Linked DNA regions of Homo sapiens: region 2 is linked to region 1. Evidence: fine-mapped expression QTL. Tissue or cell type: NK cells. Region 1 holds a variant in brackets; the other region holds the start of a gene. All regions are shown on one strand. Distances are between the middles of the regions.

The links. PIP is the estimated chance that this variant, and not a neighbour inherited with it, causes the effect.
Region 2: it holds the start of TUT1, and the variant in region 1 is fine-mapped to the expression of TUT1 in NK cells (Gilchrist 2021, PIP 0.95).

The regions. Positions count from the first base shown.
Region 1 is chr11:62,662,742-62,670,741 of GRCh38, reverse strand. It overlaps LBHD1 (LBH domain containing 1), which reads left to right. Exons shown (of 7, transcript NM_024099.5): 2 at 701-860; 3 at 939-1,101; 4 at 2,995-3,219; 5 at 5,769-5,893; 6 at 7,409-7,506; 7 at 7,583-7,925. The coding sequence starts at 711. The coding sequence ends at 7,613. C11orf98 (chromosome 11 open reading frame 98) reads left to right here and starts at 5,532. Exons shown (of 4, transcript NM_001286086.2): 1 at 5,532-5,611; 2 at 5,769-5,893; 3 at 7,409-7,506; 4 at 7,583-7,925. The coding sequence starts at 5,573. The coding sequence ends at 7,692. CSKMT (citrate synthase lysine methyltransferase) reads right to left here and starts at 5,430. Exons shown (of 3, transcript NM_001043229.2): 1 at 5,410-5,430; 2 at 4,796-5,095; 3 at 2,634-4,346. The coding sequence starts at 4,862. The coding sequence ends at 3,691. SNORA57 (small nucleolar RNA, H/ACA box 57) reads right to left here and starts at 5,320; the gene lies at 5,172-5,320. RefSeq lists enhancers at 1-385, 4,083-4,182, 4,203-4,252, 4,303-4,412, 5,083-5,312. The variant C/G (reference allele first, on the strand shown) is at 3,689.
Region 2 is chr11:62,587,764-62,595,763 of GRCh38, reverse strand. TUT1 (terminal uridylyl transferase 1, U6 snRNA-specific) reads left to right here and starts at 4,241. Exons shown (of 9, transcript NM_022830.3): 1 at 4,241-4,360; 2 at 6,543-6,733. The coding sequence starts at 4,279. MTA2 (metastasis associated 1 family member 2) reads left to right here. Exons shown (of 18, transcript NM_004739.4): 13 at 1-12; 14 at 272-500; 15 at 694-783; 16 at 1,130-1,248; 17 at 1,357-1,505; 18 at 1,724-2,550. The coding sequence ends at 1,889. RefSeq lists enhancers at 4,090-4,319, 3,736-4,431.

The DNA of each region.
Region 1 (8,000 bases):
GAAAGAGTTTCACTATGTAGGTCAGGCTGGTCTCGAACTCCTGACCTCGTGATCCGCCCAATCCGCCCACCTCGGCCTCCCAAAGTGCTGGGATTACAGGTGTGAGCCACCGCGCCCGGCTGTTTTGCTTTGTTTTCAACCACTAAAAGGCTGGATTCGTGTAACATACTGAATTCTGCTTTACAGAAGAAAACACCTCTTAGCTGTGTGACTGATTATAGGCAAGTTCTTGTGCCCCGGTTTCTGCATCAGAAAATGAAGCTTATAACAACAGTACTTGTCTCACAGTTTTAGGATAATTAAATTAGTTATATGTAAAGCAATTAAAACAGCTCCTGCCAAAGAGTAAACACCATATAAATATTCATTAAATAACATACAAACATACCAGGTTGGGAAAAATCAGTAAGCATAGGAGTCAGGAAATTCCAAGTTGGTTATCACAACTCTTGGCCCACAGGGCTTTAATCCAGGTGCCCTTGTCTCCTACCCTTGTTGCCATCCCAGTGTCTCCAGGGAGTAAGTAGAAATAAAGATCCTATCTCACCTCTTGGGCATTTTCCCCTCCCCTGAAAGCGTATAATCGCTTAGCACAGTCGGTGCTTAAGGGGCCAGGCTCCAAAGAAGATTAAAGGAACAGTTTGTGGGGTGCACTGGGCAGCAGTACTCTCCTCTGAGTTCAATCATCTTGCACTCTAAGAATCACCACCATGGCCCTTGTGCCAGGGAGAAGCAAGGAGGATGGGCTTTGGACTAGAAATAGCCCAGGCTCCTCCCAGCATCCAGAAAGTCCCAGGCTGCCCAACCCTCTCTGGGACAGAGGAAAAATTGGCAAGGTTGAAGGTCACCAGCACATTCAGGTTAGTACTTCCTCAGCCTGTGTCTGGCAGCTGGCTTACCCTCCAGTTTGGCCCAACCTCCCTGCTGTCCCTATTCAGGATTTCTCTCAAAAGTCCCATCTGCCGTCTATTGTGGTGGAATCCAGTGAGGTGAATGAAGAGAGTGGGGATCTCCATTTGCCCCATGAGGAGCTGCTGCTGCTCACTGATGGTGAGGAAGAGGATGCTGAGGCCTTCTTCCAAGACCAAAGTGAAGAGCCAGGTGAGGGAGGTGGCTCATTCAGGGGGCCACTGTGAGCTGAATGTTCTGGGCAGAGCCAAGATGGAAGTCAGTTACGGCCCCTGCATTCAGCAGTGCCAGGCACACAGCAGGTGCTCAATAAATGTGAAGATGTGGGAGAGAAAAGGCAGCTGGCAAAGTTGATGAATTGTAGAGAGCAGTTTTGGTATCAGAATGGGTGCCATCCTTTAATCTGTACTTTCTTTTTCTTCTTTTTTTTTTTTTTGAGACTGAGTCTCGCTCTGTCACCCAGACTGGAGTGCAGTGGCGCGATCTCAGCTCACTGCAAGCTCCGCCTCCTGGGTTCACGCCATTCTCCTGCCTCAGCCTCCCAAGCCGGCCAGTCTTGGGGTAATTTTATCTTTTCCTGCAGCAATGTAAACATTTTGAAAGTACAGATTAAGGCTGGCCGCGGTGGCTCACGCCTGTAATCCCAGCACTTTGGGAGGCTGAGGCGGGCAGATCACAAGGTCAGGAGATCGAGACCATCCTGGCTAACATGGTGAAACCCCGTCTCTACTAAAAATACAAAAAATTAGCCGGGCGTGGTGGCGGGCGCCTGTAGTCCCAGCTACTCGGGAGGCAGGAGAATGGCGTGAACCCGGGATGTGGAGTTTGCAGTAAGCTGAGATCCCACCACTGCACTCCAGCCTGGGCAAGAGCCAGATTCTGCCTCAAAAAAAACAAAAAACAAAAAAAATTACCCCAAGACCAACTACCTAAAAATAGTTTACATATTCGATACCTTCTCTTCTAGACTTTTTTCATCTCTGTGTACTGTTTTTTTGTTTGTTTGTTTTGGTTTTGGTTTTTTTTTTTGAGACAGAGTCTTGCTCTGTCCCCCAGGCTGGAGTGCAGTGGCAATGACCTCTGCTCACTGCAAGCCCTGCCTCCTGGGTTCGTGCCATTCTCCTGCCTCAGCCTCCCGAGTAGCTGGGACTACAGGCACCCGCCACCACGCCCAGCTAATTTTTTTGTATTTTTAGTAGAGACAGGGTTTCACTTTGTTCGCCAGGATCTCCTTACCTTGTGATCCGCCTGCCTGGGCCTCTCAAAGTGCTGGGATTACAGGCGTGAGCCACCGCGCCCGGCCCCGTCTGTGTACTGTTACAGAAGCTACTTTTTTTTTTTTTTTTTTTTTTGAGACAGAGTCACCCTCTGTTGCCCAGGCGGAGTGCAGTGGCAGGATCTCGGCTTACTGCAACCTCTGCCTCCCAGGTCCAAGCAAGTCTCCTGCCTCAGCCTCCTGAGTAGCTGGGGCTACAGGTTCAGGCCACCACGCCCGACTAATTTTTTTTGTATTTTAGTAGAGATGGGGTTTCACCATATTGCCCAGGCTGGTCTCAAACTCCTGAGCTCAGGCAATCTGCCCGCCTCAGCCTCCCAAGAAGCTACATTCTTTTGAGCATTTACTATGTACCAGGTACTATGCTAAACACTTTTACTTCATGATTTTCAGAACAACCCAATGAAGGTACTTCCCCTTTATAAATGAGAAAATTGAGGCTGCGAGGTTAGGCTCTTAGTGATATAATTGCTCTATTTTTTTATAAGCAAAAAATACCACAGAAATTAATTTTTAGCTCAAGTGCAGCAGCTTATCATGGCCCATTGCAGCTTTGACCTCCCAGGGTTCAAGCAGTCCTCCCAGCTCAGCCTCCTGAGTAGTTGGAACTACATGCCTGTGCCACTATCCCGGGCTCATTTGTTTTTGTAGAGTTAGGGGTGTCACTTTATTGCCAGGGCTCAAGCAATCTGCCCACCTTGGCCTCCCAAAGTGCTGTGATTATAGGTATGAGCCAGCATGCCTGGCCTAGTTTTGTAATTTGATAATATATCAGTAATATTTTTGTCCCCTCTCTTCCTCCATCCCAGGCTGGGCTTGGAGCCCACAGGACCCTAGAAGTCCTTTAAGAACATTTAACGCTGGACTCAGCTGGGGGCAGGACCAGGATGAAGAAGATGCTTGTTGGATTCTTGAGGACACAGCATGTCTGGAAGCCACCAACCACTGTCCCTTCTGGGACTCAACAGGCTCCCGTGTTTGTAGAAGTGGCTTTGTGGAATATTCCCATCTCCTGCCTCCTAATAGCTTTGAGGGTAAGTATTGTTCCCTCCCCCTCAAATATCTCATCCAGGTTTATGAAGCTCCTTATACCCATCCTCTTACAATCTCCTTTTACAGGTGACAAAAATGAGGCTTACAGGTTAGGCCACTAGATTATACAAGTCAGTCAGCGCAGGGGTTTTGATTCAGTTCCTGTCTGCTGCTTTTAGGAGCTCCAGTTAGTTGAAACTGGGGAATGACCCAATTGTACCTTCTCTTTTCAGCATTCATTTTGTGCTAAATATTGCGCACATCATTGTATGTAATCTCCGTAACTCCAAGTTATTCTCACTCTGCAGATGAGTAAACTGGGGAACAGAAACATTCAGCAATATGGCACCCAGCTAGTAAATGTGGAAGCCAGGACTCAAATTCTCACTTTGCAGCCAGATAGCTTGCAAAGACAGTTCTTCAGCCCTCTCCTTGCCCACAGAAATACTAGGGTCAGGACTACTAAAATGT[C/G]TTTAATGAGAGCCTTGAATCAAGTAAGCAAAGTAGGTGATGCCCCTGAACGGGCCTAGCTCCTGCACAGTCACAGTCCAGCCATAGGACCCTTGTTCCAGGCAGGGCAGTCGCACATCAGGGTCCTCATCTGAGAACTGAATCAGGGTCCCCTGAGGGTTTAGAACCCTCAAGCATTCTGATAGAAGCTGGTAAGCCCTAGGCAGACCTCCCCGGGCAACAGCATCCCATGTGCCTTTGTCCAGCAGTAGTTGGAAAGAGCCTGAAGAAGCCACAGCCCCCAGGTTCTGAGCATCGGCGTGCATGAAGTGGAGGCTTGAGGCAGGGTGTCCAGGGCATAGAGGTGTTTGGCCTGGGCCACCCTCCAGGAGGCTATTCATGTGGGCCACAGCCACAGGAGAAAAGTCCACCCCCAGCACATCCACTGGGTGTGGAGATTTGGTGTAGAGGCCTGTACATAGGCTGGAAGTCCCACAGCCCACATCCAGCACTCGCAGAGGACTGGCAGCCTGTGCCTCCTGCAGCAATGGCAGTAGGAGCCCCTGGACTTCGTCGTATCCAAAGAACCAGTCGAAGGTGGGGACAGTGCCCAAACGAGGCTGGGCATGCAGCCGATCCCAGAGACAGCGGTCCGCCAGGCAACTATCAGCCAGTGAGCCTGTGGGCACGGTTGGAGGGTGTCACTTGGTCTATGTCGCCACTGCAAAAACGTCGTATATACACACTGGCGTCTTTTTTTTTTTTGAGACAGGGTCTCACTCTGTGACCCAGGGTTGAGTACAGTAGCACAATGATGGCTCACTGAAGCCTCCACCTCAGCCTCCTGAGTAGCTAGGACTATAGGCGCCATCGTGCCCGGTTAATTTTTTTTGTAGACAGGGTCTCGCTATGTTGCCCTAGGTTGGTCTCGAACTCCTGGGCCAAGCGATCTGCCCGCCTCGGCCTGGCAAAGTGTTAGCATTACAGCCGTGAGCCACCACGCACGGCCCACCGTAGGGTTTGAGAATCACAATTTCAGGGACTACACTCCTGACTCACGAGGAACCCACCTTACCCTCCCCACTCTGCCCCCACCTTGCCCTCTCCACTCTGCCCCCACCTCCCTACCCGCAAAGGGGCGGCACGTCCCCATCATCAGGCTCGGCAAGTGGAGCATTCGACGCAGCGCGGCCATCTGGAGATTCGGGTAAGTTCGACCAGAGAAGCTTATGTGAAGCGTCCACCCTACTCCAGCCGGAGAGGCCTGAGGTCCAGGGGAAGATCTGCAAATTCCGCGTAGCGAAAGGCGGCGTACAGCTTCCCCGAACTCTGCAGTCCCGGAAAAAAGAACGCGGACACAGACTATGGTAGGAACGGCCTTTATTGGCTGCAGCGGGAAGTGGAGGAGGGTATACAGCGTCCGCAGACCTGAAATCAAATGAGAAAGTGTGAGCACCCCGATGGAGGAGCCAGCTGGATCTCGGTTGTCCTTCTCCGAGATTCCCGGTGTCCCGGCGTTTGAGGATAGAACCAGCGGATGGGAAGCCGCCAGCACCGAAGACATGACGCCGAGGGGGCCAGAGCCCTTTCCCTCTTCCTCCGTACATTACGGGGAGCGGCACCACAAGCCCGATCCCCGCCAAGAAAAGGAGGGTCCTGAGACCCCGCCCAGAGCCTTCCACCCGGCACCCCCACCACTCCCGGCCGCCCAATCTGGCTACTACAGCTAAAACCACACTTACTAGCTCACCACCCTCCGAAAGGCCTCCCGCACCGCGGAGCTCCTTTATATAGCCCGAGGACCCGCCCCCGAGTTGCGATTGGCCCGCGGAAGGCCGGGGCGGAGCCCCGCGGATCCGGCGCTGAGCGGAAGTACGGACCGTGAACTGGAGTGGAATCGCGACTATGGGAGCTCCGGGGGGAAAGATCAACCGGCCCCGAACGGTGACTGTGTGGGGGCCGCGACTTTGTTTCCTCAAGCGTTCCTGAGCCCTTTTATCTCGCACGAGATGGGATCAGTGAGGGGCCGGGGCTGCCTGGTGGAGGGGCCCCGGGTCGCGGCGAGCCCACTCCATCTGATTCGCATCTTTCTCCCCGGCAGGAGCTGAAGAAGAAGCTGTTCAAACGCCGGCGGGTGTTGAATCGGGAGCGGCGTCTGAGGCACCGGGTGGTCGGGGCTGTGATAGACCAAGGGCTGATCACGCGGCACCACCTCAAGAAGCGGGCGTAAGTACTAGACCCTCTTCCTGTTGGTCGTCCCCACCGAGTCTTCCTTCCTCCCTGCAGAGCTCCGGAGCAGCTTCACCTCTCAGCTCACCTTGTGCACTGACGCTTATGCGGGGAATGTCTGTCGGCTGTTAGTTCCTAAGCTCTGATAGCCTCTCACAATACCTGTAGCAGACAACCTTTCTTTGGGTTTTGGATTCTGTTAAGAATCTCAGGAAAGCCGGGGATGGTGGCTCATACCTGTAATCCCAGCACTTTGGGGGGCTGAGGTGGGCGGATCACCTGAGGTCGGGAGTTCGAGACCAGCCTGACCAACATGGTGAAACCCCGTTTTTGCTAAAAATACAAAAATTAGCCAGGCGTTGTGGCCGGCACCTGTAGTCCCAGCTACACGGGAGGCTGAGGCAGGAGAATTGCTTGAACCTGGGAGGCGGAGGTTGCAGTGAGCCGAGATCACGCCACTGCACTCCAGCCTGGGCCACAGAGTGAGACTCCGTCTCAAAAAAAAAAAAAAAAAAAAAAGAATATCAGGAAATCTGTTGGCTCTCCATTCTCCAAGTAATGTTATACATTCACACAGATTTTTATAAGTAAACTTATTTTTACATACAGAAAAGTGCACACATAGGCGCATAAAACTCGAAGAATTTTCCCAAAGGCACTCATAGGATTTCACTTGTAAGTTTCAAGGCCTCCTGTGTCTTGAGGAAGAGTTCCCATCCCATTAATTACTTTCTGTGTCCTTTTTTTTTTTTTTTTTTTTTTTCCTCTTTTTTGAGACAGAGTCTCCCTCTGTTGCCCAGGCTGGAGTGAAGTGGCATGATCTCGGCTCACTGCAACCCCTGCCTCCTGGGTTTAAGCTATTCTCTTGCCTCAGCCTCCCGAGTAGCTGGGATTACAGGTGCTCCCCACTGCACCCGGCTAATTTTTGTATTTTTAGTAGAGACGGGGTTTCACCATGTTGGCCAGGCTGGTCTTGAACTCCTGACCTCAGGTGATCCGCCCACCTCAGCCTCCCAAAGTGTTGGGATTACAGGCATAAGCCACCGCCCCCGATCTATGTCCTTTCATTAGCTTCTTCAATGTAAATATTTAGGGTTTCTATTACTATTTATATTATATTTATTTAATACTTTTCCTTTTTTTTTTTTTTTTGAGACGGAGTCTCGCTTTGTCGCCCAGGCTGGAGTGCAGTGGCGCGATCTCGGCTCACTGCAAGCTCCGCCTTCTGGGTTCACGCCATTCTCCTGCCGCAGCCTCCCGAGTAGCTGGGACTACAGGCGCCCGCCACTGCGCCCAGCTAATGTTTTGTATTTTTAGTAGAGACAGGGTTTCACCGTGGTCTCGATCTCCTGACCTCGTGATCCAGCCGCCTCGGCCTCCCAAAGTGCTGGGATTACAGGCGTGAGCCACTGCGCCCAGCCTATTTAATACTTTTTCTATAGCCAGAACTATTTGTGTGACCTCAGTTGGTTCAGGTTAACCTAGCTCTCTTTATTTCCACTTACCCATCAGGTCCAGTGCACGTGCCAACATTACACTGTCAGGGAAGAAGCGCAGAAAACTCCTCCAGCAGATCCGGCTTGCCCAGAAAGAGAAGACAGCCATGGAAGGTGAGGCTGGGACAGAGGTGGGTGAGGGGAATCCTGGATTTATTTGGGATAATACTTCCTTCTTCCCTTTACTCAGTGGAAGCCCCTTCAAAGCCAGCCAGGACTAGTGAACCACAGCTCAAAAGGCAAAAGAAGACAAAAGCCCCCCAGGATGTAGAAATGAAGGACCTTGAAGATGAGAGCTAAACCTCTTCCACTAGAAGATTCTCAACTGGAGCCAGCCTTCAGACTCAGTGGTTGTTTCAGAGGACTTTGACAAAAGCAAGGCCCCTTTTCACTCTCCAGATTTCCTCCTACCTAATGGCCTACTGACCTCCCCTAGAGGGATGTCTTTGGGAGGGAAGAAGGTACAGAAGAAAGATTGGAGAAGGGCCTCTCTAGCAGTCAACTCCATTTGTAATAAAGCCCTAGCACTCTGAGATGTGTGTGATTAAATGTAGGAATGGGGATGGGTCATGAAAAGATTGGGGAGTATGGAAACAAGACAGTGAGGA
Region 2 (8,000 bases), 75 kb after region 1:
CGGGGCACCACGGTAAGGATCAGTGGGAAGAAAAGCAGGGGAGAGCAGTAAGCATATTGATGGTGAGCTTAGGTGAAGGCCAGAATATTCAACTCTTTATATGGTGATGGTTTGATGGACGGGGTGCTTGATGCTGGTTGGGGAGACACATAGGCCAAGAGGTCAGTAAAGAGATTAGACAGGAATAAATTGTCCCCTGCAGGGAATGGAAGAAAGAAGGGAGCCTCAGTGCTGATTTCTGCTCTCTCTCTTTCCTATGCTCTTCTTCTAGGAGCCACACTCAAGGGGTCATTTATCCAGACCTGAAGCTCAAAGTCTCTCTCCTTACACAACCAGCGCCAACAGGGCCAAGCTACTGGCTAAGAACAGACAAACTTTCCTGCTTCAGACCACAAAGCTGACCCGTCTTGCCAGACGCATGTGCAGGGACCTATTACAGCCAAGGAGGGCCGCCCGACGGCCTTATGCTCCTATCAATGCCAATGCCATCAAAGCAGAGTGTAAGGGCAGGGAGTGGTGGGACTGGTGGTGGGTTTCGGATTGCTCTGCCCAGAGACCGTTGTTTCTCTGGATGTCTAATAACAGGAGGGATAGTAGGCCACAGATAATTTTTTTAAGATTAGAGTTGGCTTCTGGCCTTAGAGGAGACCTGAATGGTGAAGCCCTTCAGAAGCTTTCTTCTTTGTTCTCCAGGCTCCATTCGACTTCCTAAGGCCGCCAAGACTCCATTGAAGATTCACCCTCTGGTGCGGCTGCCCCTGGCAACTATCGTCAAAGATCTGGGTATGGGATGGGGACCAGTGAGGTTGGCATCAGGCTCCCAGTCCTTTCCCTGTCTGACATCTCTCCCCTTGCTTTTTTTCTTCCTCATAGTGTCCTCAGAGATTTAGTCTAACAAACTGTACTTTTGTTGTTTAATAATTTTTTTTGTAAACTATTCAGTATTACTGTACTGATTTGATAAGGTCATACTGATATTTGAAATACTAGTGATAGCTTGCCAGAACATTCCCCCATTGCTACTTTTGGGGATGCCCAGGTAAACTGCTGGTCCAGGGAAGAGAGATGGAAGTAACAAAGGGGAACTGCGTGGGAAGAAAAGGTGCGAAAGTTTTCTGTTTTTTTCCAGTGGCCCAGGCACCCCTGAAACCAAAAACACCTCGGGGTACCAAGACACCGATCAACAGAAACCAGCTGTCCCAGAACCGGGGACTGGGGGGCATTATGGTGAAACGGGCCTATGAGACTGTGAGTTGACAGAAAGGGGTGGGCCAGATTGAGTTGGGTGGGCTTTTGTCTCTCATAGGAGTCTGAGAGGGTCCCTTCCCTCATTGTGCCATCCTACCCCTTTTCCAGATGGCAGGGGCAGGGGTTCCTTTCTCTGCCAATGGAAGGCCTCTGGCTTCAGGGATTCGTTCAAGCTCACAGCCAGCAGCCAAGCGTCAGAAACTAAACCCAGCTGATGCCCCCAATCCTGTGGTGTTTGTGGCCACAAAGGATACCAGGTAAGGCGTCTACCATGGGAGGGGCTGAGAGGGACAGTCCAGGCTGGTGAGTGTGGGGAGTAGGAGTATCAGAGCAAGAGCTCCAGGAAAGTTGTGGATGCAGGGTGGGGATGCCAGAAAAGAATGGGCCAGAAGGCATAATTGCAGTGTGGGGCTTCACCTGGAGGTCTTAATGTTCTCTAAGCCTTTTCTGTTTCCCACTTGCTCTTTCTGGCCAGGGCCCTACGGAAGGCTCTGACCCATCTGGAAATGCGGCGAGCTGCTCGCCGACCCAACTTGCCCCTGAAGGTGAAGCCAACGCTGATTGCAGTGCGGCCCCCTGTCCCTCTACCTGCACCCTCACATCCTGCCAGCACCAATGAGCCTATTGTCCTGGAGGACTGAGCACCTGTGGGGAAGGGAGGTGGGCTGAGAGGTAGAGGGTGGATGCCCAGGGCACCCAAACCTCCCTTCCCTTTCGTGTCGAAGGGAGTGAGGAGTGAATTAAGGAAGAGAGCAAGTGAGTGTGTGTCCCTGGAGGGGTTGGGCGCCCTCTGGTGTTACCACCTCGAGACTTGTCTCATGCCTCCATGCTTGCCGATGGAGGACAGACTGCAGGAACTTGGCCCATGTGGGAACCTAGCCTGTTTTGGGGGGTAGGACCCACAGATGTCTTGGACAGTTTTGGGGGGAGGGTTTTTTAATTTTTTAAAAATTTTGCCTCCCTTTGTGAAAGGGGATGGGGAGGGGAAGAGTAAACAGATAACAGGTGGTGGTACCTGGTTGGGGGAGGGGGGCGTGCACTGCCATGTCTTTTTTTTTTTTTTTTTTTTTTTTTTTCCTAATTGGGGGTTTCTCTTTCTGTCCGGTGTCCGGACTTTCCTAATTGGAGTTTGAGGCCCCTAAGCTGGCATCAACCCCAGGCCACGCTCGCTCTTTCCTTCCCTCCCCTCCCCCTCTGCCTTTTGTACGCCAGTTCTCAGAAATAAAGATCTTTTGTCCGTTTTTTTAACCTCGGATTCTGTAATTGGTTCTTATAGTAACAAATAAAAAGCTGTTTTCTTCAGCTTCTCCTGGCTCAGCTGTTCTTTGCCATGGGTGTGTGTTGTGTGTGTGTTGGGGGTGTCTTTGAGAGGGAAAATAAAGGACAAAGGACAACAAAGGAGGTACAGATGGTTCTTGCCCTGGGAACAGCTTTATGAGATAGGCAGCCTGGACCCAGGCGGCTTGCTCCAGCTAGGCTTCTTGTGGGACCCAAACTGCTCCCCAGCTCCCAGTGGTGCTGGAGCTCAAGAACCATCTTGGCCCAGATTCATTCAAAGGAGTTGAGATGAGCTTTCTGGATGACTGGTGGCCTCCATAGGAAAGGGGAATGGGGGTGTTTCTTCCTCTGTTTCCCACCTCTTACTCCCCTCTCCCTTTTGTTTAAGGAATTCTGGAAGTTGCTAGCAGCCAGGGTAACATGTATACCCCCTTGGGGGTGGTGGTGGGGTTATAGGAGGATCCCCTCACCTAGCTGTGTGGTGTATTTGGCAGACGAGAATTCTACCACTGAACCACCCTAGCACCTCTGGGTGTATGTGTACAGCCTGCTGCTTCAGGATCCTCAAGGCCAGTCTCGATGATATCCCGATCCACTGTAGCACTGTTTCCTGCCTTAAAGGTTTGGGACACTGAGATTAGATGCCTGAGCTGGGCCCATTAGAAGGAACACCTTAGGATAGAGAACAAGAAGTTCAGCCTGCTGTGTGCTCCTTGGGCACTTCCTTTAGAGATGGGAAACGGCCTCAACAGTTGTGACTTGTTCAAGGTCAAAGACCTTGGTGTCTGCCTTAGGTCCACTGCTCTTTGCGCCATTCAAAGCTGTGGGCTGATAACCACAGCACAAGCTGCTGAGCCCATCTGATAGTTCTCTCCACCTCGTTATGGTCCCTGTCCCTAGGGCATCCCCAGCTCCCCGTAGTCCCTCCCTGTCCTGAGCCTACACCTCGGCGGCGTTGGGATGAACTGACAATTATACCAGGAGGGGGTTGACAGCATTCGCCCCCTCCAGTGTCTAAACTCAGTTACTGGCACTCGGTTTTGTCTTGTCGCACTGCTCTGAGGTGCGCCAGTAGCTCTGGCGCCTCCGGCGTACACCACGCAGCCCACTACTGCGGAAGGAATGGGCCTGGCTCCAGGACCTCGTGGAGTCCGGAAGGTGCCCGGTGGTGGCAGAGCTCCCCAACCAGGGCTAGAAGCCGTCGCAGAACACCCGTTTTGCGGGAGGACAGGGGGCGGAGGGAGGGAGTAACAGCCCTGAAAAGGTTGGAAGTCCAGGGACAGCCCTGGGCTCCGTGGGGCAAAGAATTGGAAGCCGCCGATCCTCCGCCTTTATTCGTCGGGTAAATAAGGGTCGAGGGTACAGACGCACGGGTGTCTACTGCGGGGTGAAGGAGCTGCCGCAAGATGCCACCCGGCGCCGGCCTTTGTGGCTGCTGTCATGAATATTCACGATGCTTTGGGCCAATCAACGTCTGAACAGCTTAAAGCACACCAATCGGCTTACCGCATGCAGATAAGCATCGTAACGCGCCGCTTTTCCTGAAACGGGCGGGGACTGGACAGCGGCTAGAAACGGAACCCAGAGTCGAAGGAGCTTGGTTTCCGGAGGAGTGTGTCCGCGCAATTGAACGACTTTATGTCACTTCCTATCGGATCGGCGGAAGTTGCTTCCGAGCGCGTTGAGCTTTGGCGAAGTGGGTTCCGGTGGTGGCAGAGGTGCTTGTGTTTTTGTCGGTACAGGAGAGTCGCTATGGCGGCGGTGGATTCGGATGTCGAATCGCTGCCGCGTGGGGGGTTCCGCTGCTGCCTCTGCCACGTTACTACAGCCAACCGTAAGCGGTGGCTAGTGAGGGACCCGGGGGTGGTTGCGGGCTTTCGTCTTTTGATCCTGGCGAAAGTTAGGGTTATAGGTAGTCAGTCGTTCTTGTCAAGTTGATTGGTAGGGTCTCTCACCTCCGTTTTTCTCTGCAAGTCCGAGGGGATTTGGAGAGTCGGGAAAGTTCCACCACATTACACTCCTCAGTATATGAAATCTCCACAACGCAAGTTTAATTGTTTTATTACTTCTTTAACCATCATCTATTGGACATATGCTCTGTGCCTGGTATTCTGCTGATCTTTAGGGTGGGGGAGGGGGGTTCAGAGATGAAGGAGCTCACCGTCTAGAGAATGAGAAAGTTTCAATGCTTTATAGATATGTTCGGAGAACTGTGGGACCACAGAGAATTAGTAACTAAATCAGAGAAGCCCTACAGAGGACCTACTCAAAGGAGGGGATGGATGAAATAGGTGTGGCATGAATGACTAGACCATAAGGTACCAGTGAGGAAGAGACAGAAGATGGGTTTGGAAAAATAGACAAGGTTCTTGTATGACACACAAGGGGTTCACTGTAACTTCAAATTCCACTTTTTTTTTTTTTTTGAGACAAGGTCTTGCTCTGTCACCCAGGCTGCAGTGCGGTGGTGTGATCTTGGCTCACTGCAGCCTCAACCTCCCGGGCTCAAACCATACCCCTGGCTAGCCTCCCAAGTAGTTGAGTCTACAGGTGTGCACCACCATACTTGGCTAATTTCTTTTTTCTTTTTTTTTTTTTTTTGAGACAGAGTCTCACTCTGTCACCCAGGCTGGAGTGCAGTGGCACGATCTTGGCTCACTGCAAGCTCCACCTCCTGGGTTCACCCCATTCTCCTGCCTCAGCCTCCCGTGTAGCCGGGACTACAGGCACCCGCCACCACGCCCGGCTAATTTTTTGTATTTTTTAGTAGAGACGAGGTTTCACCATGTTAGTCAGGATGGTCTCGATCTCCTGACCTCGTGACCCGCCCGCCTCGGCCTCCCAAAGTGCCGGGATTACAGGCCTGAGCCACCGCGCCCGGCCTACTTGGCAAATTTTTTAGTTTTTTGTAGAGATGGGTTTTCACCATGTTGCCTAGGCTGGTCTCCAATTCCTGGCCTCAAGCGATCTTCCCATCTTGGCCTCCCAAAGTGCTGGGATTACAGGCGTGAGCCAATGTGCCCAGCCCTACTTTTGAAGTCTGGAATCACAGTGTTCCCTAAACAGGGTTTACTTCCATTCTTCCTTTTCACTGTGAATGGCACTATCACTGTTCATCCAGTAAGCCAAGCCAGAAACCTAGGAGTCTTCTTTGGCCCCACATTTACTTTGGTGACATCAAGCAGCTAACTCAATAAAATAATAGCAACGGTTAGTTTTTCAACATTTACCGTGTACCAGACTCTCTCTGCCAAGTGATATATCTGAATAATACCTGTGTGTGAGGTGCTAGATACTGATATTTCCATTTTATATCTGAGGAAGTTGATGCACAGTGAGGCTTCATAACTTGACCAAGGTCTCACACAGGTTGACAGAGCTGGGATTTGAACTTGGGCAATGTAATTTCAGATCCTGCCTTTGACATCACTATATTATACCATGTCCAAAGATGATCCACAAAGTATTCCATGATCCAAATTTTTTTAGTTCTTGTGTAGATGACCTGGATAAGTTACCTGTTAATTTGTTTCCAACTCTACCTAGCACAAATAGGTGGTTTAAGAAATACTTTACTATCACACTGTTCTTTAAGTAAAAATAAACAAAATACTTGTAGTGTAGCCAGTTCTCCTGGGAACCCTCGTCTCTACTAAAAATACAAAAATTAGCCGGGTGTGGTGACACACGCCTGTAGTCCCACCTACTCACGAGGCTGAGGCAGGAGAATTTCTTGAACCTGGGAGGCAGACGTTGCAGTGAGTGGAGACTGCGCCACTGAACTCCAGCGGGGGCGACAGTGAGACTCTGTTTAAAAAAAATAAATTAAAAAAAAAAGAATGTACTATTTAGACAAATGTATAAGAGAGGAAGGTGAAAGGAGCCAGGACTTTGTTTATTCAAAGGTCACAGTTTCTGTGGCTTGGAAGGATCAGTAAGATTTAGGTATGCAGAGAGCAAAGGCAGACACGTCGAAGAGTGCTTTGCATGTTTTTGTCTCACACTTGTCTTTGCAGGACCCAGCCTTGATGCCCACTTGGGAGGCAGAAAGCACCGGCACCTGGTAGAACTACGAGCTGCGAGAAAGGCCCAGGGACTTCGAAGTGTGTTTGTCAGTGGCTTTCCCAGGGATGTGGATTCTGCTCAGCTCTCTGAGTACTTCCTAGCATTTGGACCTGTGGCCAGTGTTGTCATGGACAAGGACAAGGTAAAGTGAATGGCTCTCGGGTTAAAGAATGAATCAGTGCTGGGCGCGATGGCTCACGCCTGTAATCCCATCACTTTGGGAGGCTGAGGCAGGCGGATTACCTGAGGTTAGGAGTTTGAGACCAGCCTGGCCAACATGGTGAAACCCCATCTCTACTAAAAATAAAAAATTAGCTGGGTGTGATGGCGCATGCCTGTAGTCCCAGCTACTTGGGATGCTGAGGCAGGAGAATCGCTTGAACCCGGGAGGTGGAGGTTGCAGCAAGCTGAGATCGTGCCACTGTGCTCCAGCCTGGATTACAGAGCAAGACTCCGTCTTAAGAAAAAAAAGAATGAATCAGATGTGCTGTGTACCAAAGAGACAAGAGAGAGAAACCAACAGCCTCTTTGAGCTGGTTCCTAATGTGGCTTATTCTTGATGGACATCACAGTACTTGGGCTAGACCAGCTTTGGGAGCTTCTCACACCTCCCCCACCCCTTGAATTTTTATTTTTATTATTATATTTTTGAGTGCAGTGGCACAATCTCAGCTCACTGTGACGTCTACCTCCTGGGTTCCAGCAATTCTCACACCTTAGCCACCCAAGCAACTGAGATTACAGGCGCGTGCCCCCATGCCCAGCTAATTTTTGTATTTTTAGTAGAGACAGGGTTTCACCATGTTGGCCAGGCTGGTCTCGAACTCCTGACCTCAGGTGATCCGTGCACCTCAACCTCCCCAAATGCTGGGATTACGGGCGTGAGCCACTGCTCCCAGTCCCACCCTTTGGATTTTATCACTTCACCAGAGTTAGTCACTGGGGGATTTTTTTGTGTGTGTCATCTATTGATTCAGTGAATTCTTTGCCAAATATTTATTCACAGCTAACTTTGTACTAGGCACTATGCTTAGGGCTGCATTCTGAGTAGTGAATGGGGTAGATATGGTCCCTGCTCTCACAGAGCCTATAGTCTAGAGGAGAAAGTAAACAATTAAGTAATTATAGTGAAAGTTGGTGCTTAAAGAACAACATACCATTGGATCAACTCCACAAGAACCTGGTTGATAAACCAGTTAGCAGTTTATTAACTTACACTGAGGGTACTAAGGTTGTTTGGTTAGAACACCCTGTCCTTTGGAGAGTGTTAGATAAACAAGCTTGTGCTTTTTGTGTTGCTTCCCTGTAGGTTTTGGTCCCTTGAAAAAAGTTCACTGTTGAGGTGCTGTGTTCCTTGGTCATACTGTGGTTCTGAGGCTGTACTCTTGTTATGTAGGCATGGCTTAGGT